Regions from separate parts of the Homo sapiens genome. Here all the other regions are linked to region 2. The links come from fine-mapping of genetic effects on gene expression. A gene starts in region 2. Each other region holds a variant in brackets. All regions are shown on one strand. Distances are between the middles of the regions.

Region 1 (5,146 bases), 36 kb after region 2:
TTTTTTTTTTTTTTTTAAAGATATAGTCTTGCTCTGTTGCCCAGGCTGGAGTGCAACCTCCGCCTCTCGGGTTCAAGCTCACTGCAACCTCAGCATCCCAGGTTGAAGCAATTCTCTTGTCTCGGCCTCCCGAGTAGCTAGGAGTACAGGCACGTGCCACCACACACGGTTAATTTTTTTGTATTTTGGTAGAGGTGGAGTTTTGCCATATTGGCCAGGCTGCTCTCGAACTCCTGACTTCAAGTGATCCTCCTGCCTTGGCCTCCCAAAGTGCGAGCATTACAGGCGGGAGCCACCACAGCTAGTCCACTCAGTCTCTTCAGTGTCTCTTGTACCCACTCCTTTCCCTGTCCCCATGGCCCTCCCTTGGTCCAGCTGGTCCTCTCCTACCTGGGTCCCTCCCAGCTCCTACCTCTGCTCCCTCTGGTCCACCCTCCACGTGGCAGTGGTAAAGATCTTTCTAAATATGACCACGGGCTCTGAAGCTTTAAACCCTCCCCTGACTCCCCAGGTCAAGTTGTGGCTTTGCCTTCCAGGTCTGGACGAAGGGAGCCTTTCTGACCACAAAGACAAGATTTCCATGTGTTATACCAGCTGCTAACACCCTCTACTTCCCTCTCCCACTCTGTCCCCGTAGGTCCTTTTTCTTTGACTGGAGCATGTGTTTGTCTAATGTCCATCTCCCTTGGGGACTGTGAGCTCTCCTAGGGGTGGAACCCTCTCTCTGTTGTTCTCCTCACATAAATAATATTAATAATAACAGAAAATGTGTAGATAGTGCTTACTATGTATCTGGTACCGTTTTAAGTGCTATGTGTGCATATTTTTATATATGCATTACATATCTAAAAACTTTTTATTCTGAAAACGTTCAAACATGCAAAAATTAAGAGAATAGTGGAATGACTGTCCATGTACTTACCCATCACTTAGCTTCAAAAATAAGCCATATTCTCCCGATCTTGTTTGATGTCTACCCCACGTATCTCTCCTATCTGAATGTTTTAAAGGAAACCCTTTTCTGTTTTTGTTTTTTTTTTTCCTTGAGATGGGGTCTCGCTCTGTCACTCAGGCTGGAGTGCAGTGGCGCAGTTTTGCCTCACTGCAAGCTCCGCCTCCCGAGTTCACACCATTCTCCTGCCTCAGCCTCCCGAGTAGCTGGGACTATAGGCGCCCGCCACCACGCCCGACTAATTTTTTGTATTTTTAGTAGAGACGGGGTTTCACCGTGTTAGCCAGGATGGTCTCAATCTTCTGACCTCGTGATCCACCCGCCTCGGCTTCCCAAAGTGCTGGGATTACAAGCATGTGCCACCGCGCCCGGCCTACCCTTTTCATTTTATCTGAATTTTACATGTCTGAATATAACTTGGTTATTATCTGAATATAACTTGGTTATTATCTGAATATAACTCAGTTATATTTCCAAAGGCAGGCGCTACTATCATCTGCAATCTGCAGATCATGAAACTGAGCCATAAAGAGGTGAAGTAACTGCCCAGAGTCACACACTTTGGAAACAGCAGAAACGGGCTTCAAGCCCAGGCGATCTGCCCTTAGTTACTGTGTCACACCATTTCTCCTACAGCAGACGTTGAGTGGATATTTTGGAATGAATGAGTAAATGAAGAAAAGTGAATGAACCAATGAATGATGGCCCCAAAGCCATGCTGTGCCTCAGCTTCACAGACAAGGGGCCATCCTGCTGAGAGATGTCCCTTGTCTGTGATGTCTGCCAAACCCCTCTGTGCCAGAACGCCAGAGATGTGAGAGTCGGCTCCCACCCGTGGTGTCCCTGATGGCCGTTCCCTCTCTCCCCACAGCCGGAGCAGACAGTCCTCATTGACAACTGTCGGCAGCAGTGCACGTGCCATGCGGGTAAAGTCGTGGTGTGCCAGGAACACAGCTGCAAGCCGGGGCAGGTGTGCCAGCCCTCCGGAGGCATCCTGAGCTGCGTCACCAAAGGTGCTGGGCTGGGCTGGGCTGGGACTGGGGCTGATGGGACTAGGGATGGAGGATGGGGACTCTGGGGCTGAGGGTAGTGTAACTGGGGTGTCCATGGCGGGAGGTGTACAGGACTAATGATTGAGGTTGCAGACCTGGGGAACCCTAGACCAGGTTTCACAGGGCCAGGGCCACCTACTTTGGGAGGTAGGGACCCTTAGGGAAAATCCAGGCTGTGGGGACCCTCAGAGATAGTTTTCTCAGGGTGGATGTCAGAGACCCTCGGTATAAGGCAGGGACAGGCGCGCCTTTGCTCTAATGTGCTACATGGTAAATGTTTAAGCTCGCAGGCTGTAGGTTCTCGTTCCAGCTACTCACTCTGCCACTGTGGCATGAAAGCAGCCGTAGACTATGTAAGTGAAGAGGTCAGGCTCCTATAAGACTTTAGAATACAAGAGCAGCAGCCTAGGGGGCCATCATGAGCGGAACACTGATGTGTGGGATTGG[A/G]CTTGGGGTTCAGACACTAGCACCAAAGGGCAGGGGAGAGACTGGGATCCCAGGGGCAGGGACAGAGAGCAGAGTTCTGAGTCTCACGCACGGAGACCTCACCAAGGCAGGACATTGGATATGGGGACCCCTCTTAACTGGAAGATCAGGATTTCTGGGGGTATAGTCTCTGATGTGGGAATCCCCCAGACTAAATCTGGGACACAGCCACCCCCAGGGCTCATTTCTTAGGGTGAAGAGCAGAGAACTCTCCTCCCCCTAAGGATAAGAGAATGGGAGCTCCAGCACCAAGGAGTGGGGGCTAAGACTCTCAGGGCTGATGAGCAGGATAATGGGGACTCCCAGAAATGGGGGGTATATCACTCAGCATCTAGTCGAGAGACAGAAAGCGTATGGCCATTTGAATGAGGAAAGTTTAATTAAAGAATCACTTACTTATTAATAGGAGATTAACTATTAAGGGTAAAGAGGGTCTGGTGCCGTGGCTCACACACCCAGAACTTTGGGAGGATCACTTGAGGCCAGGAGTTTGAGACCAGCCTGGGCAACATAGCGAGACCCCTGTCTCCACAAAAAATTGAAAATTAGCCAGGTGTGGTGATGCGTGCCCGTGGTCCCAGCTATTTAGGATGCTGAGGTAGGAGGATCAGTTGACCCCAGGATTTCGAGGCTGCAGTGAGCTATATGATTGCACCACTGCTCTCTAGCGTGGGCAAGACAGCAAGACCTTGTCTCTTTACAAACAAACAAATAAACAGAAATAAGAAACGGTAAAGAGAGCACTAAAGAATACCACCAAAGCACACACAGGAAGTAGCCGCCACTCTAGGGCTAAGGTAAAAGCCTCATGGAAGGGAGAAATTGGCCCCTACTCTTCAAGGAGGGGAGAATCAGCCCCAAGGCTGAGTCCAGTCTCACTGCAGCTGTAGCCCACTGGGTGGCACAGAGGTTTCTGCAGGCTGGACTTGGCAAGAAGGGAACCCCTCACTGGGAAGCCAGCTGCGGCCAGTGGCACTCGCTGAATGTGGCCCCGCACCCTGGCCAGAGCTGGAAGGACCAAACTGGCTAGAAGCCAGACCAGGAGACCGTCCCTCCTGCAGTGACTCTCCGGCGCCCTCTGTTGACAAAGCTTAACTCCGTGGGTGTATTTGAAGCTGAGAGGCGGTACATAGATAATGGACACAGGAGGAAGGAGACGTTTGAAGGCTGGCCTCTCCCACACAGGGGTTCCGCAAGCTGGGGTCACAGATGTAGTAACTGTACGAACAGGGTCTCGGACACAGAAACCCCCCAGGACAGGGCCTCAGCAGTGAGACACGATCAAGGCTACTGTCTTGAATACAGCAACCCTCAGGGATGGAGTCTTGCACTGAGGGAGCCCAGCCCATGAGACTTAGCTAGTTAGGGTCTCAAACATTTCAAATCCTGCTGAGACCCTGGCACTGGGCTCTTGCCAGAAGATCACCCCAGGGCCCTAGTCTTGGGCACAGAGGCCTCCAGGACCTAGAGAAATTGGAGACCAATTTCTATCAAATGTGGAGATGTCCAGGGGGCTGAGGTCTCAGGCATGGGGGACCCTGAGACCTAGATCTTTTTTTTTTTTTTGAGCTAAGGTCTCACTCTGTGGCCCAGGCTAGAGTGTAGTGTAGCTTACTGCAGCCTCGATTTCCTGGGCTCAAACAATCCTCCCGCCTCAGCCTCCCGAGTAGTGGGGGACTACAGGCACACACCACCACGCCTGGCTAATTTATTAATCTTTCTGTAGAAATGGGGTCTTACTATGTTGCCCAGGCTAGTCTCAAACTCCAGGGCTCAAGCTATCCTCCCACCTCAGCCTCTTAAAGTGCTGGGATTACAGGCCTGAGCCACCACACCTGGCCTGGGGCCCAGGTCTTGAACACAGAGAACCCTGGGGCTGGGATCTCAGACATGGATGCTCTCAGGGCTGGCATCGCAGACACAAGGACCCCTGGGGCACAGATCTCAACTGGGGTCAAGTGCACCTTTTCTCTAAAGGGCTAGATGGTAAGTGTTTAAGCTTGCAGGCTATACCTTCTGGATCACAACTACTCACTCTGCCACTGTGGTGTGAAAGCAGCCGTAGCCTATGTAAGTGAAGACGGTGAGGTTCCTATAAAACTTAAAATACAAGAACAGGGTGAAATCTCAAGCAAGGGCACCATGGAAAGTGCACCTTAAACACAGACCCAGAGCCTTGGTCTTTACCTTGGTCTTAGGTGCGTGGACTCCAGGATCTCAGTCTCACACAGCAAATGGCAGGGCCTCAGTCTCAGAAGTAGGGGAACTCTAGGTACTGGGTCTTGGCTGTACAGACCTCTGGGGCCCAGGTCTCAGGTATGGGACCTTTGACAGCCGAGACTTAGACACAGTCCCCCATGGGGCCTCAGTGTCAGCTGTGTGGGACTCCCAGGGGCTGGTCTTGAAAATAGCAGGCTGGGCATGATGGCTCATGCCTGTAATCCCAACACTCTGGGAGGCCAAGGTTGGCTGATCACTTGATGTCAGGAGCCCGAGACCAGCCTGGCCAACATGGTGAAACCCTGTCTCTACTAAAAATACAAAAATCAGCCAAGCATGCTGGTGGGCACCTATAATCCCAGCCACTCAGGAGGCTGAGTCAGGAGAATCACTGGAGCCCAGGAGGCAGAGGTTGCAGTGAGCCGAGATTGTACCA
Region 2 (5,146 bases):
GAATGCAGTGGCATGATCACGGCTCGCTGCAGCCTCAGACTCCTAGGATCAAGCAATCCTCCCACCTTAGCCTCCTGAATGGTGGAGACTACAGGTGCATGCCACCACACTCGGTTTATTTTTATATTTTTTGTAGAGAAAGGGTCTCACTATGTTGCCCAGGCTGGTCTTGACCTTGTGGCCTCAAGTGATCCTCCTGCCTCAGCCTCCCAAGTAGCTGGGACTACAAGCGTGCACCACCGTGCCTGGCTAATTTTTGTATTTTTTTGTAGATACAGGGTCTCACTATGTTGGTCTTGAACCAGGCTGGTCTCAAACTCATGGCCTTAAGCAATCCTCCTGCCTCAGCCTCCCAAAATGCTGGAATTATAAGCTGAGCCACTGCGCCTGGCCTCAGACAGAGAATTTTCACATCTTGGTTTGCAATTGCTGTTTCCTCCTAGGAATCCCGACGTCTCCTCCTCCGAGTCCTTCTCTGTCTCAGGGACCCAGCAGCCCCTTCCACCAACTTTTAGACCCCTCAGGGACCCAGGCATCCTTTTCCCAAAGCTTCCACTTCCTGTGGGTCCCCTGCCCCTGCTTGTTTCTTGTTATCTCTGGCTTTTAGCCAGTCTCCTATTTACTCACCTCATTCTCCTGGTTGACTTTATGTCCCAGTCAACTCTTAGCCTTTATCTTTCCCTCCAGGAACGTTTCTTGGGTGGGCGTGGGGATTGGTTGGAGCTCCAGGGAGAGAGAAGCCCCCCACCCGCTCTGGCCTCCCAGAGGCCCAGGCTGCTGTGATAAGAGAGGAGGAGCCCCAGGGGCAGCAGCTGCTAGGGTGTTGGTCCAAGAGAGCACCCAGGCTTTGCAGCTGCTGGTCCCAGGGGAGACTCCCCCAGCAAACAATGAGATCCTGAGTCAGGGAGAAGGCAGGCAGGGCATGGGTCAGGCCAGCCCCTCAGAGGAGCTGACTCCAGCTGAGAAAGCCCAACTTTCAGCTCATTCTTCTGCTCCTTGTGTGCAACCTAGACCTCCACCTCCCATCTCAGGCAAATTCTGGGGTGATGGAGAGGCACAGAGTCCCCTAAACCTGTTCAGCTAGCCCCTGCTAAGAGCAAACCCTCCCTACACACAAAAAAACTCCAAAACCAACAGGTCCTGGCTCTTCCTCAGTCCTCACAGGCTGGGGAGTCCCTGGCCACCTATATCCTGTTTCCAGCACCACTGAGGAGCAGGTGTCTGGGATCAGAAGTAGAATCTGGGTGTCTGTGTGGAACCAGGAAACAGAGGCCATTGTCCCTTCTTCACACACCGCCTCAGTCCCAGTGCCCACCTGCAGCCTGGCCTGCGCCCACACCAGAGGAGGCTGCCCCCCAGCTCTACAGTCCTTGAGAATTTTTTTACATCTCTGGGACGTAAAGATGCCCAGAGAGGCTGGTTTTGGTGTTCCCATTTTGCAGATGAGAAACCGCAGACGCCCCACTGGGCTGCGGTGGAGGTCTTGTGTCCCACTCCATAGCCTCAGACTCCTGCCCATCCCAGACACCTGCCCCTAGTGGTGTCTGGAAGCAGGATGTGGGTGGCTAGGGACTCCCCAGCCTGTGGGGACTGAGAAGGAACCAGGACCCGGATATGGGTCCCTCACTGTTGTTCCTGGCAGGAGCCAAAGGAAGGAACCTAGCCACTAAGCCAGCAAATATGACCACATGCCACCTCCCACCCTCACTGCCCACACCCCCACCCTACCCCACCTCCACCCAGGGACCCAGGTGCTCATCTGCCTGCTCCCCAGCTGTCTCCCTCAGGGACCCCACCCTTCCAGGACCAAACTCTCCAGAAGGCTTCCAGGGAATGGCCACCAGCTGTCCTCACTCCCTTCTTGGAACCCAGGCATCCAGAATCACTGTCCCTCCTTCCCAGGCCTTCACAGTTTCCCATTTCATCTGGCCATGAGGATGGCAGCCTCCTCCAGGAAGTTGGCATCATCTGCCTGGCACGTGGCCCAGGGTGTGGCCCAGAAACTCCACTATATAGCCCTGCCACAGGGCTGGCCCTGCAGCTCCAGGGACCTGCAGGTGAGAAGGGCTGGGGTCCCCTTTGGAAGTGGGACAGCAGGTCCCCTACTCTTGCCCCTGACTGTAGGCCTCCTCATCCTACCCCTAGACCCACAAGACAGCCAACTCTCCACCCCGTCCCTGGCTTCTGCCCTCCCCAACCCACCTCCAGACCCGCTGGACAGCCAGCCTCCCCTATACACACACACTGGTCCTTGGATCCATACCCCCTGGCCCAATCTGCCCGACTTCTTTCCCCACCTCAGCCTTCATGGTCCCAGGTGGCCCTTGTCATGAGAGTGGGCCCTTCTGCCCAGGACAGTCTCCAGCAGAGGCGGTGGATCAGCCTTCTATGATCCTTTCTCTTTTCCTACTGCAGCCATGGGTGCCCTATGGAGCTGGTGGATACTCTGGGCTGGAGCAACCCTCCTGTGGGGTAAGTCAGACCAAGACCCTCTCCATGTCCTTGTTCCAATCTGGGGAACTCTGCGTGGGTCCACGCCTTCCATGTGTGCCTCCTCCACATGTCACCCCAGGCTAGCTGAGACAGGAGAGAGGCCCTTAGGCTCTGCAGGGGGATGTGGTAGAATTCACCAATTCTCACCCTTTTCTGGATGGGAGCACAGGCAAAAACCTTAGTCCCCAAACTCAAGTGTGCAAGAACTTTCTTGGTTTTCTGCAACTCAACTAAGGTTTTGACTCTGAGCCTCATTCTGCTAAGTTGATGGAAAATTTCACGAAAGTCATTCTTGGAGGGTGTTGTCCCCACTTCTCCCAGGGATGTGTCCAGAACTAAAATTTTGGATAAAGCCAAAGTACTGGGGGGAGGATGGGATATGAGGACCCTCTCGTCACCAGTCAGCATCCATCTAGGTTACTTTTGAAATGTCCATTGTTCCTGATCCCCTGGCCCCCTGGGATATCCTTCAAAGCCCCCTTTATATGGAAGGTGGTCATTCCATAGCCCCCACACTCTCTTCAAGATTCCTTAGACCTCTCTCTCCTCAGCCCCAGGGACGCTCTTCCTAGTTGGGGGTGGTCAGAAGCCCCCACTGCCATCTATTTCTAGGAGACAATTCATTCACCCTTCCATAATCCCCTTCTTCTCTTTATCCCCTTTTCACAAACCCCCAAGTCCCATTATTATTATTATTATTATTATTATTATTATTATTATTTGAGATGGAGTTTCACTCTTGTTGCCTAGACTGGAGTGCAATGGTGTGATCTCAGCTAATTGCAACCTCCACCTCCTGGGTTCAAGCGATTCTCCTGCCTCAGCCTCCCTAGTAGCTGGGATTACAGGCGCCCCATGCCACCATGTCCGGCTAATTTTGCATTTTTAGTAGAGATGGAATTTCACCACGTTGGTCAGTCTGCTCATGAACTCCCGACCTCAAGTGATCCACCCGCGTTGGCTTCCCAAAGTGCTGGGATTACAGGCAAGAGCCACCGCGCCTGGCCCCCACAAGTCCTATTAAGACAAAAACCAGCTGGGTACAGTTGGTCACGTCTGTAATCCCAGCACTTCGGGAGGCTGATGCAGGAGGATCACTTGAGCCCAGGAGTTCAAGACCAGCTTGGGCAACAAAGTGAGACCCTGCCTCTAGAAAAAAATTAAAAAATGAGCCAGGCACACAGTGCGTGCCTGTGGTCCCAGCTATACCAGAAGCTGAGACAGGAGGATCCCTTGAGCCCAGGAGGTTGAGGCTGCAGTGTGTTGTGTTTAAGCCACTGCACTCCAGTTTGTAAAAAGATGGAAATCATACACTGGCAGCAGAGTACATCCACCTTGAGCCCCAAAGTGCTTAAAACAATTGTGGGTTGGAGATTTCACATGAAAATTCAGATAGCCACATTCTCTTTAAAAACAGAAAGAACGGCCAGGCGTGGTGGCTTACGCCTGTAATCCCAGCACTTTGGGAGACCGAGGCAGGTGGATCACCTGAGGTCAGGAATTTGAGACCAGCCTGGCCAACAGGGTGAAACCCCATCTCTACTAAAAATACAGAAATTAGCTGGGCGTGGAAACCGGGAGGCAGAGGTTGCAGTGACCCAGGATCGCGCCACTGCACTCCAGCCTGGGTAACAGAGTGAGACTCCATTTCAAAAGAAAAAAAAGAAAAAATACAAAAGTTAACTGTGCCTGGTGGCGCACACCTGTAGTCCCAGTACTCGGGAGGCTGAGGTGGTAGAATCACTCGAACCTGAGAGGCAGAGGTTGTGGTGAGCCGAGATCGTGCCACTGCACTCCAGCCTGGGTGACAGAGCGAGACTCCATCTCAGAAGAAAAAAAAAAAGAAAAACAGGAAGGTCTTACAATTTAAAAAAGCTCACATTCTTTCATTATAACAGGTGAAAGCTAGTACCAACAATCCACTTTTTTTTTTTTTACTAGTTTATATATTTTTAAAATTTTTAATTTTTATGGGTTTGCATTTATGGGGTACCTGTGATATTTTGATACAGGCATACAGTGTGTAATGATAAAATCAGGGTAACTAGGGCATCCCTCACTTCAAGCATTTGTCATTTCTTTGTGTTAGGAACATTCCAATTCCACTCTCAGTTATTTTAAAATATACCATAAATTATCGTCAACAATAGTCATCCTGTTCTGCTACCAAATACTAGATTTTATCTATTTTATCTAACTGTTTAACTGTATTTTTGTACCCATTAACCATATCTACTTATCCCCCAGTCCCCGCTACACTTTCCAGCCTGTGGTAATCATCGTAACCATCATTTTACTCTCTATTTCTATGAGTTCATCAGTTAAAAATTTTAAATTCCCATCTATGAGTGAGAACATGTGAAATTTGTCTTTCTATACTGGCTTATTTCACTTAACATCATGTCCTCCAGTTCCATCCATGTTGTTGCAAATGACAGGATCTCATTCCTTTTTTTTTTTTTTTTTTGAGACCGAGTCTCACTCTGTTGCCCAGGCTGGAGTACAGTGGCGCGATCTTGGCTCACTGCAACCTCCGCCTCCCAGGTTCAAGTGATTCTCGTGCCTCAGCCTCCCGAGTAGCTGGGATTACAGGTACATGCCACCATTCCTGGCTAATTTTTGTAGTTTTGGTAGAGACAGGGTTTCACCATGT
Region 3 (5,146 bases), 64 kb after region 2:
CGGCGAGGCTGTGGCCCTGCCTGTGGCTGTGGGCCGCGTGCGGGTGACCGCCGAGGGCCGAAACATGGTTCTGCAGACGACCAAGGGGCTGCGGCTTCTCTTTGATGGCGATGCCCACCTCCTCATGTCCATCCCCAGCCCCTTCCGTGGACGGCTCTGTGGCCTCTGTGGGAACTTCAATGGCAACTGGAGTGACGACTTTGTCCTGCCCAATGGCTCAGCAGCGTCCAGTGTGGAGACCTTCGGGGCTGCATGGCGGGCGCCCGGCTCCTCCAAGGGCTGTGGCGAGGGCTGCGGGCCCCAAGGCTGCCCAGTGTGCTTGGCAGAGGAGACTGCACCCTATGAGAGCAACGAGGCCTGCGGGCAGCTCCGGAACCCCCAGGGCCCCTTCGCGACCTGCCAGGCGGTGCTGAGTCCCTCTGAGTACTTCCGCCAATGCGTATACGACCTGTGCGCGCAAAAGGGTGACAAAGCCTTCCTGTGCCGCAGCCTGGCAGCCTACACGGCGGCCTGTCAGGCAGCTGGCGTGGCCGTGAAGCCCTGGAGGACAGACAGCTTCTGCCGTGAGTGTCCGTGGGTCCCTCGCAGGACTCTAGACCAGGTGTAGGGGCCCCTCCTGGCCCATTCCTTCTATTTGCATGTCGGAGTGGTTTCTCCCTGTAAAAGCGCTCCCTCCCCACCCCCTCCCACCCCACACCCACACAACTTCTTCTCCCACGGCATAGTCCACTGGCTTCCCTGCTATCCCTCTGACTGTTCCTTCTCAGCCTCCTGTCTGGGCCCACTCTGCTCAAACCTCAAATTCTCTTCTTCCCTAGTGTTCTATTCTGGACTCTTTCTGCAGTGACCTGAAAGGGAGAGTTGGATGGGTTGGGAGATCTGTGGCTCACACAGACCCTCCTTCTACCCCCGACAAGACCATATCCCCTCAGATCCCCCCAAGACAAGGCTGCAGGCTATTAAACACCCCGCTAAACTAGGACTGTACCTCTCATTCAATTCCCCATGGGAGGGACATCACCAGAGACTCTCAGGAAAAAGCAATGGCCCCTTCGGCTCCAGGTCAGAGCCAGGTCTCCCCTGGGCAGGACCTATACCCAGGGCGGTCATCCACACCCGCGGCCTTAGATTTGTTCTCATTGTTGACCATGGACCTGGTCTGTCTGTCTCAAGCCCTGAACTCTCTCCTGACTGTCAGCCCAGTGATCCTGATTTCTGACTTCTGGCCTTCAGAACTGTGGGAGAATGAATTTCCCCTGTTTAAGCTACAAAGTCTGTGGTAATTGTTAGGGTGTCCAAGACACCTTCCCCTGGGTGTCCTTACCGTCCCTCTTACCTGCTGTGTTCCCAAATAAAATCAGCATTTCACCCCCAGCCTGATGCTCCTTCCCCAAACCTGGTGGGCATTGCAGAACAGCCACACCTCCACCAATTGCTTAGCCAGAGACCAGGGACTTACCACAGATAATTCCCTTGGGTCCATATAGCCCCTGTCCCAACTCTGACCCCTCTGCCTGTGCCCCCCTATCCCAGCCCTGACCCCTTTGCCTGTGCCCCCCACACCCTGGCCCTGACCCCTCTGCCTGTGCCCCCTACCCAGCCCTGACCCCTCTGCCTGTGCCCCCTACCCCGGCCCTCAACCCTCTGTGTGTACCCTCCCCATCCCGGCCCTGACCCCTCTGCCTTTGCCCCCCCACCCCAGCCCTGACCCCTTTGCTTGTGCCCCCAACCCCAGCCCTCAACCCTCTGTTTGTGCCCTCCCCATCCTGGCGCTGACCCCTCTGCCTGTGTGCCCCCACTCTGGCCCCGACCTCTTTGCCTGTGCCCCCGACCCTGGTCCTGACCCCTCTGCCTGTGCCCCCTACCCTGGCCCTCAACCCTCTGTCTGTGCCCTCCCCATCCCAGCCCTGACCCTTCTGTCTGTAGCCCCCTACCCTGGCCCTGACCCCTCTGCCTTTGCCCCCTCATGCCTGCCCTGACCCCTCTGCCTGTGCCTCCCCACCCTGACCCTGACCTCTCTGTCTACACTCCCTGATGCAGCATGTTCACTTTGGGCTCTTCCTGTCTGTCCCACTGGAAGTGAGCTCTGTAGGACTGGGGTTGAGACTTTTCTCAGTATTTGTGTCCTCAGCACCGCCTAAAACAGGGCTGGGTGTGCAGTAGGCCCC[C/A]TTGGTTATCCAGGACCCTTTGGAGGTGTGACTCAGCCCTGCCTCCTCTCTCTGCAGCGCTCCATTGCCCCGCCCACAGCCACTACTCCATCTGCACTCGCACCTGCCAGGGATCCTGTGCGGCTCTCTCCGGCCTCACGGGCTGCACCACCCGCTGTTTTGAGGGCTGTGAGTGCGACGACCGCTTCCTGCTTTCCCAGGGTGTCTGCATCCCTGTCCAAGATTGTGGCTGCACCCATAATGGCCGATACTTGCCGGTGAGTAGGGGCTTGGGGTGGGCAGAGAGGGTAGAAGAGCTTGAGAGAGACCCAGAGATTCTGTGCTGACCTCTTCAAGGCTGGGGACAGAGGAGGTACCGCCATATCCCAGCTATGTGACTTGATGCAGGCAACCTCCCCCTATTAGTCTCCTGCAGCTTCTGTAACCAATTACCGCAGACATGGTAGCTTAAACAGGAGAAATTCATTCTCCCACAGTTCTGAAGGCCAAAAGTCAGAAATCAGGAATACTGGGCTGACATCAAGGTGTTGGCAAGGTGGCACTCCCTCCAGAGAAATCTAGGGGAGGCCATGCCCAGTGGCTCATACTTGCAGTCCCAGCCCTTTGGGAGGCCAAGGCGGGAGGATCACTTGAGCCCAGGAATTCAAAACCAGCTTGGGCAACATACAATTGTTTTTTTAATTAGCTGGGCATGGTGGTGCACACCTATAGTCCCAGCTACTCAAGAGGCTGAGGTGGGACAATGGCGTGACCCCAGGAGTTGGAGGCTGCAGTGAGCTATGATCACGCTGCCGCACTCCAGCCTGGGTGACAGAGCAAGACCTTACCTCTAAAGAAAAAAGGAAAAGAGCCAGGCACGGTGGCTCACACCTGTAATCCCAGCACTTTGGGAGACTGAGGCGGGCGGATCACGAGGTCAGAAGTTCAAGACCAGCCTGACCAACATGGTGAAACCCTGTCTCTACTAAAAATACAAAAATTAGCCGGGCATGGTGGTGCGTGCATGTAATCCCAGCTACTCAGGAGGCTGAGGCAGGAGAATCACTTGAACCCAGGAGGCGGAGGTGGCAGTGAGCCGAGATTGCGCCACTACACTCCAGCCTGGGTGACAGACCGAGACTCCATGTCAAAAAAAAAAAAAAAAGAAAAGAAAAGAAAAGAAAAAAGAAATCTAGGGGAAAATCTGTTTGTTGCCTCTTCCAGTTGCTGGTTGCTGCAGGTTTTCCTTGGTTGTGGCCACATCACACCAACCTCTGCCTCCTCTTCTGAGTGTGTCATAACACCTCCCTCTGCTTCTCTCTTATAAGGATACACGTGATTGCATCTAAGGCTCACTCAGATAATCCAGGAGAAATTTTCCATCTTCAGATCCTTAATTCAATCACATCTGCAAACACACTTTTCCCATATAAGGTGACATTTACTCATTACAGGGATTAGGACCTGATATCTTGGGGCGGGGGCATCATTTGGCCCCTCCTTGAACTGCATTTTCTTCACCTGTAAAATGGGACTAATCACCATCTTTGTACCATAGGTATCTGAGGATCAGGCCCGATTATACAGGAAAGATACCCACTGAGCACTGGGCCTTGCCCTGCATGTTCATCACACTCAGTAAAAAGAAAGAGCAGTTTACAGCGGGGCGCAGTGGCTCACACCTGTAATCCCAGCACTTTAGGAGGCCAAGGCGGGCGGATCAAAAGGTCAGGAGTTCGAGACCAGCCTGGCCAATATGGTGAAACCCCGTCTCTACTAAAAATACAAAAATTAGCTGGGTGTGGTGGTGGACACCTGTAGTCCTAGCTACTCGGGAGGCTGAGGAAGGAGAATCCCGTGAACCCGGGAAGTGGAAGTTGCAGCGAGCCGAGATTGTGCCACAGCACTGTAGCATGAGCAACAGACCGAGACTCCATGTCAAAAAGAAAAAAAAAGAAATAGCAGTTTACAACAGTGCAAATAGGTAGCCCAGCTAATAATTGTTTAATAATATGAATTAAATTGAAGAATTGATTTATTCTTGTTAATAATTTTTTTGAGCTCTTACTATGCACCATGTTTGTTATGGGTGTTATTATTTATTTATTTATTTATTGAGATAGGATTGCACTCTGTCTTTCAGGCAGGAGTGCGGTGGCATGATCACGGCTTACTACAGCCTCAAACTCCTGGGCTCAAGCGATCTTTCTGTCTCAGCTTCCTGAGTAGCTGGGACCACAGGCTCACACTGCCATCCCTGGCTGACTATTTAATTTTTATGTAGAAATGGGATCTCGCTATGTTGTCCAGGCTGGTCTCAAACTCCTGGGCTCAAGCAATCCTCCTGCCTTGGCCTCCTAAAGTGCTGGGATTACAGGGATGAGCCACCTCTCCCGGCCATGTTCTGGATGTTAATTCATTTAATAATCACAACAATCCTATGCAATAGATACTATGACTATTTTCCCCATTTTACAGATGAAGAAATTGTGACATAGAGAAGTCAGCCCGAGGCTAGCCATTAACATGCAGCACTAACTTGCATTGCTTGCAAATGGAGCCAAATTTTGCTCTTTCCTTGAGGTCTCACTGCCTACTGGAAGCCATCCTTGATCCCCTAGGCTGGGTTAGGTGCCTCCTCTGAACCCCTCAGCTCCCTATGCTTCCCCATCTCTGCCCTGACCCCTCTGCCTATGCCCGAAGTCTTGGATTTGTGAGTCTGGCCTTCATGGGAGAGGTCTGGCCTAGAGATGTGGAAATCATCATTGTAGAGATGGCATTTATTTTGTTAATTACATTTCTTCATTTCTTACCTGTATCAGTTAGCTTTTGCTGGGTTACAGATCACTCCAAAACGTTGTGGCTTAAAACAATTATTCATTTAGTTTGCAATTTTGTGACTGCAGTTTAGGCTGGACTTGGCTGGGTGGTTCTTCTGCTATCCTCTGGGCTTACTCATGTATAATATCTGTAGTCAGCTGGTGGGTCAGCTGAAGGCT
Region 4 (5,146 bases), 44 kb after region 2:
CGGCTGCGGCTGCTGGGCCAATGGCACCTACCACGAGGCGGGCAGTGAGTTTTGGGCTGATGGCACCTGCTCCCAGTGGTGTCGCTGCGGGCCTGGGGGTGGCTCGCTGGTCTGCACACCTGCCAGCTGTGGGCTGGGTGAAGTGTGTGGCCTCCTGCCATCCGGCCAGCACGGCTGCCAGCCCGTCAGCACAGCTGAGTGCCAGGCGTGGGGTGACCCCCATTACGTCACTCTGGATGGGCACCGATTCGATTTCCAAGGCACCTGCGAGTACCTGCTGAGTGCACCCTGCCACGGACCACCCTTGGGGGCTGAGAACTTCACTGTCACTGTAGCCAATGAGCACCGGGGCAGCCAGGCTGTCAGCTACACCCGCAGTGTCACCCTGCAAATCTACAACCACAGCCTGACACTGAGTGCCCGCTGGCCCCGGAAGCTACAGGTGAGGAGGGCTGTGGGCCAGACAGGAGCAAGTGCCAGCTCTGGGGTTGCCTGAGATGGTAAGGGCTTCACCATTCCCCTGGGCCCCTTTCACAGCTTAGCTGGGGCATGATGGAAGGGTCAGAGTGTACGCCTAGGAGCCTGATGGCTTGGCACAGCAGCTTCTTCCTCTGTGAGCCTAGTGTATTCCTCTGTAAACTGGTCTAGGAAAAGTACCTGTTTTCGAGAAGGATAAGGAGTCAGTGACATGAGCCAGTAGAGGCTCTTTGTTTTTCTTTTCTTTTTTTCTTTCTTGCTTTTCTTTCTTTCTTTCTTTCTTTTCTTAGCCTGACTCTGTTGCCCAGGCTGGAGCGCAGTGACAGGATTAGGGCTCACTGCAGCCTGGAACTCGTGGGCTGAATCGATCCTCCCGCCTTGGCCTCCACCTCCCAAGTATCTGTGACTAAAGGCACACGCCACCACGCTGGCTAATTTTTCATTTTTTTGTAGAGATGGGGGTCTCACTATGTTGCCCAGGCTGATCTGAACTTCTGGCGTCAAGCGATCCTCCCATCTCGGCCTTCCAAAGTCCTGGGATTGCAGGCTTTGCCACCAGGCCCGGCCTATAGATGCTCATTATTATTTTCAGCGGGAGGTGACATGCTCTGGGTCCCACAGCTAGTAGGTAGTGGGGCCAGGATTCAAACCCGTGTTTGCTCCGTTCACCGCTCCCCCACTGCCCACAGGTGGACGGCGTGTTCGTCACTCTGCCCTTCCAGCTGGACTCGCTCCTGCACGCACACCTGAGCGGCGCCGACGTGGTGGTGACCACAACCTCAGGGCTCTCGCTGGCTTTCGATGGGGACAGCTTCGTGCGCCTGCGCGTGCCGGCGGCGTACGCGGGCTCTCTCTGTGGCTTATGCGGGAACTACAACCAGGACCCCGCAGACGACCTGAAGGCGGTGGGCGGGAAGCCCGCCGGATGGCAGGTGGGCGGCGCCCAGGGCTGCGGGGAATGTGTGTCCAAGCCATGCCCGTCGCCGTGCACCCCAGAGCAGCAAGAGTCCTTCGGCGGCCCGGACGCCTGCGGCGTGATCTCCGCCACCGACGGCCCGCTGGCGCCCTGCCACGGCCTTGTGCCGCCCGCGCAGTACTTCCAGGGCTGCTTGCTGGACGCCTGCCAAGTTCAGGGCCATCCTGGAGGCCTCTGTCCTGCAGTGGCCACCTACGTGGCAGCCTGTCAGGCCGCTGGGGCCCAGCTCCGCGAGTGGAGGCGGCCGGACTTCTGTCGTGAGTACTGCTCCATGCATGGTCCACATGGTTGGGTCTCTCCCTGCCCTTCCCAGGACTGTAGGACAGCAGCCCCTTCCTCCTCCATGGGGCTCAGGGGCCACTTTCCTTCCCGAGCTCGGTATCTACTGTCAGGAAACACCTTGGCACTGACACACTGAAATGCCCCAAGTCAGGTACTGCAGTGAGAGAGAGTCAGTTAGAAACACCTAGTCAGAGTGTGGG[C/T]GCGGTGGCTCACGCCTGTAATCCCAGCAATTTGGGAGGCCGAGGCGGGCGGATCACCTGAGGTCAGGAGGTCGAGACTAGCCCGGCCAACATGGTGAAACCCCACCTCTACTAAAACTACAAAAATTATCCGGGCGTGGTGGCGGGCACCTGTAATCTCAGCTACTCAGGAGGCTGAGGCAGGAGAATCACTTGAACCCAGGAGGCAGAGGTTGCAGTGAGCCGAGATCGTGCCACTGCCCTTCAGCCTGGGTGACAGAGATTCCATCTCCAAAACAAAAAACAAACAAACAACAAACAACAGAAAAAAAAAAAGAAAGAAAAGAAACCTGGGGTCCAGGACACTCTTAGGGATTGGTGATCCATGCTTTCAGGTATCCAAGGCATGTAGATTGGGATGGCTGACCCTGCCTCTGTCACATAGCAAAGTACCCCTTGTTAGGAAGACCTAGTGAGTTTCAGCTGGTCAGAGGGCCCAGGTCTGTTGCACACACTGAAATACACCTAGTCACATGGAATTAGTCGCATACCTTCAGTGATATCTGCTTAAATTTTATACTGACTGGTCAGATACACTCAGAAAGAAACAGGATCCTGGCATAGCCTTGGGCAGATCCACACAGATGCATAGTTAGATAGTCCTAGGCGGTTCCCTTCAGGCAGGTCTCCTGGTCACAGGTATCCTGCCAACTTCACCCAGGCACAGCCTTAGGCAGACCATGTCAGAAGGACTCTGGGAGATGCTGCATGTCAGACACCCACAGCTGGGTGCCCTCAGGCAGAGCCATACCCTGAGATACATGTGGCCCCACACCCCAGTCACATTCACACGCTGAGATGCCCATAGTCAGTTCTGATCCTGCATACCCCGAATAGATATAAGTGATCCATTTCACCCAGGTAAGCCTGGCTTACATAGTGAGACCCCATCTCTACAGAAAATAATAATAAATCAGCCAGATGTGGTGGCTTACTCCTGTAGTCCCAGCTAATCGGGAGGCTGAGGCCAGAGGATTGCTTGAGGTTTAGGTGGAGGCTGCAGCGAGCTGTGATTGCGCCTCTGCACTCCAGCCTGGGTGAGATAGAGTGAGAGCCTGTCTCAAAAAAAAAAAAAAAAAAAATATCAGCCAAGCAGAGTCATTTGATCTTCAGAAATATTTGGTCAGAGAGACCTGGGCATGTCCCCTCCCATTCCAGGTCCCACGCTGAGTCCCCCAGTTAGATGTCCTGGATCACATGTGCATGCCCAGAGACGCCCAAGTTGGCCTGAGCAGTTTTCCCACTCAGGGCCTCCCAAGACTGCGACTCAAACACCTACCTGGCTGATGCCCACCTTGTCCCCACAGCCTTCCAGTGCCCTGCCCACAGCCACTACGAGCTCTGCGGTGACTCCTGTCCTGGGAGCTGCCCGAGCCTGTCGGCACCCGAGGGCTGTGAGTCGGCCTGCCGTGAAGGCTGTGTCTGCGATGCTGGCTTCGTGCTCAGTGGTGACACGTGTGTACCTGTGGGCCAGTGTGGCTGCCTCCACGATGACCGCTACTACCCACTGGGCCAGACCTTCTACCCTGGCCCTGGGTGTGATTCCCTTTGCCGCTGCCGGGAGGGCGGTGAGGTGTCCTGTGAGCCCTCCAGCTGCGGCCCGCATGAGACCTGCCGGCCATCCGGTGGCAGCTTGGGCTGCGTGGCCGTGGGCTCTACCACCTGCCAGGCGTCGGGAGATCCCCACTACACCACCTTCGATGGCCACCGCTTCGACTTCATGGGCACCTGCGTGTATGTGCTGGCTCAGACCTGCGGCACCCGGCCTGGCCTGCATCGGTTTGCCGTCCTGCAGGAGAACGTGGCCTGGGGTAATGGGCGAGTCAGTGTGACCAGGGTGATCACGGTCCAGGTGGCAAACTTCACCCTGCGGCTGGAGCAGAGACAGTGGAAGGTCACGGTGAGAGCAGATGGGGAGCAGGGGGCGAGGGGCCTGTGGGTAGGTGGGGCACAGGCAGCGCTCAGCCCAGGAGTTGGGGGCACAAGAGATGAGAGTGCATGTGCGAGGCCTGGGGTCTCTGAGGACAGAAGATGCCAGTCAGAACCGAGTGGGAAGCCAATGAGGGAGGTGTCATCAGGGACTTGGGAGCTGCTCCCCCATCTCTGTCCCTCAGTCTCCACCCTCTCTTTACCTCCATGCATTGACTTTTCTCTCCAAATTTCTCCCACCCTCTCCTCCCTCCCACTCCATCCTCTCTCCACCTCAGTCCTGGATTCTGCCCTACTCACCTCCCTAGTCTGCCACTTATTGGCAGGACGTGGTGCCATCAGAGGTTGAGAAAGTCCGAGTTTGAGAAGCTTCATGGACAGAGGACAATCTGTGGGTGACACTCTCACCGCCTTAACAACAACAACAGCAGCTATAGTTTCTATACAGCTGACTGCACACCTTTTGGCTGCCAGGCACTTCACGTCCATGGTGTCTGTATGCTTGCAACAGGGACTGCAGGCACTATGACTTGCTTTATTTTTCAGAGTGGGATGGCCCATCACTGGCCCATAGTCCCCCAGCAAAGGTGGAGCTTGAACCCCGTGCTGCTCTGCAGTGCTTTTCTTACTGAGAAGATTTGGTCTCATGTGGAGACTGGCATCTGAGTTACAGTGGAGGGGTTTCCCCTGAGATCCCACTGAAACAGACACGCAGCTGTTTTTCTAGTGGCAGTATTGGCGAAGGTGCTGATCAATTACTGACTTAATCTGGCGAACTGGACAGGCGTGACTTTTTTTTTTTTTTTTTTGGCACAGAGTCTGGCTTTGTCACCCAGGCTGGAGTGCAGTGGCGCGATCTCGGCTCACTGCAACCTCTGCCTCCCTGGTTCAAGTGATTCTCCTGCCTCAGCCTCCAGAGTAGCTGGGATTACAGGTGTGCAACACTATGCCCAGGAAATTTTTGTATTTTTAGTGGGGACGGGTTTCACCATGTTGGCCAGTCTGGTCTCCAACTCCTGAGCTCAGTGATCTGCCGGCCTCAGCCTCCCAAAGTGCTGGGAATAGAGGCATGAGCCACTGTGCCCGGCCGACATGCAGGACTTAATTGAATATATTCCCTAATGTTTCCCAAGCTCCTAGAATAGCCCCTGACATACAGCGCCTAAATACACAGGAGTTGTTGATGTTCTTGTTAGTTGCTTCTTACTGAAACCCCCAGCTTCCCTACAGATGTGGGAGCTCT

The links.
Region 1: its variant is fine-mapped to the expression of FCGBP in whole blood (Lepik 2017, PIP 0.95).
Region 3: its variant is fine-mapped to the expression of FCGBP in CD8 T cells (Kasela 2017, PIP 0.95).
Region 4: its variant is fine-mapped to the expression of FCGBP in whole blood (INTERVAL, PIP above 0.99).

Annotation. Positions count from the first base shown.
Region 1 is chr19:39,896,375-39,901,520 of GRCh38, reverse strand. FCGBP (Fc gamma binding protein) reads left to right here. Exons shown (of 36, transcript NM_003890.3): 18 at 1,824-1,965. Among named protein-coding and RNA genes, the nearest start is that of FCGBP, 36 kb to the left of the region's middle. The variant A/G (reference allele first, on the strand shown) is at 2,452.
Region 2 is chr19:39,931,890-39,937,035 of GRCh38, reverse strand. It overlaps FCGBP (Fc gamma binding protein), which reads left to right and starts at 2,402. Exons shown (of 36, transcript NM_003890.3): 1 at 2,402-2,472. The coding sequence starts at 2,418.
Region 3 is chr19:39,867,495-39,872,640 of GRCh38, reverse strand. It overlaps FCGBP (Fc gamma binding protein), which reads left to right. Exons shown (of 36, transcript NM_003890.3): 32 at 1-563; 33 at 2,226-2,425. Among named protein-coding and RNA genes, the nearest start is that of FBL, 24 kb to the right of the region's middle. RefSeq lists an enhancer at 5,013-5,146. The variant C/A (reference allele first, on the strand shown) is at 2,169.
Region 4 is chr19:39,888,207-39,893,352 of GRCh38, reverse strand. FCGBP (Fc gamma binding protein) reads left to right here. Exons shown (of 36, transcript NM_003890.3): 21 at 1-442; 22 at 1,167-1,710; 23 at 3,282-3,874. Among named protein-coding and RNA genes, the nearest start is that of FCGBP, 44 kb to the left of the region's middle. The variant C/T (reference allele first, on the strand shown) is at 1,936.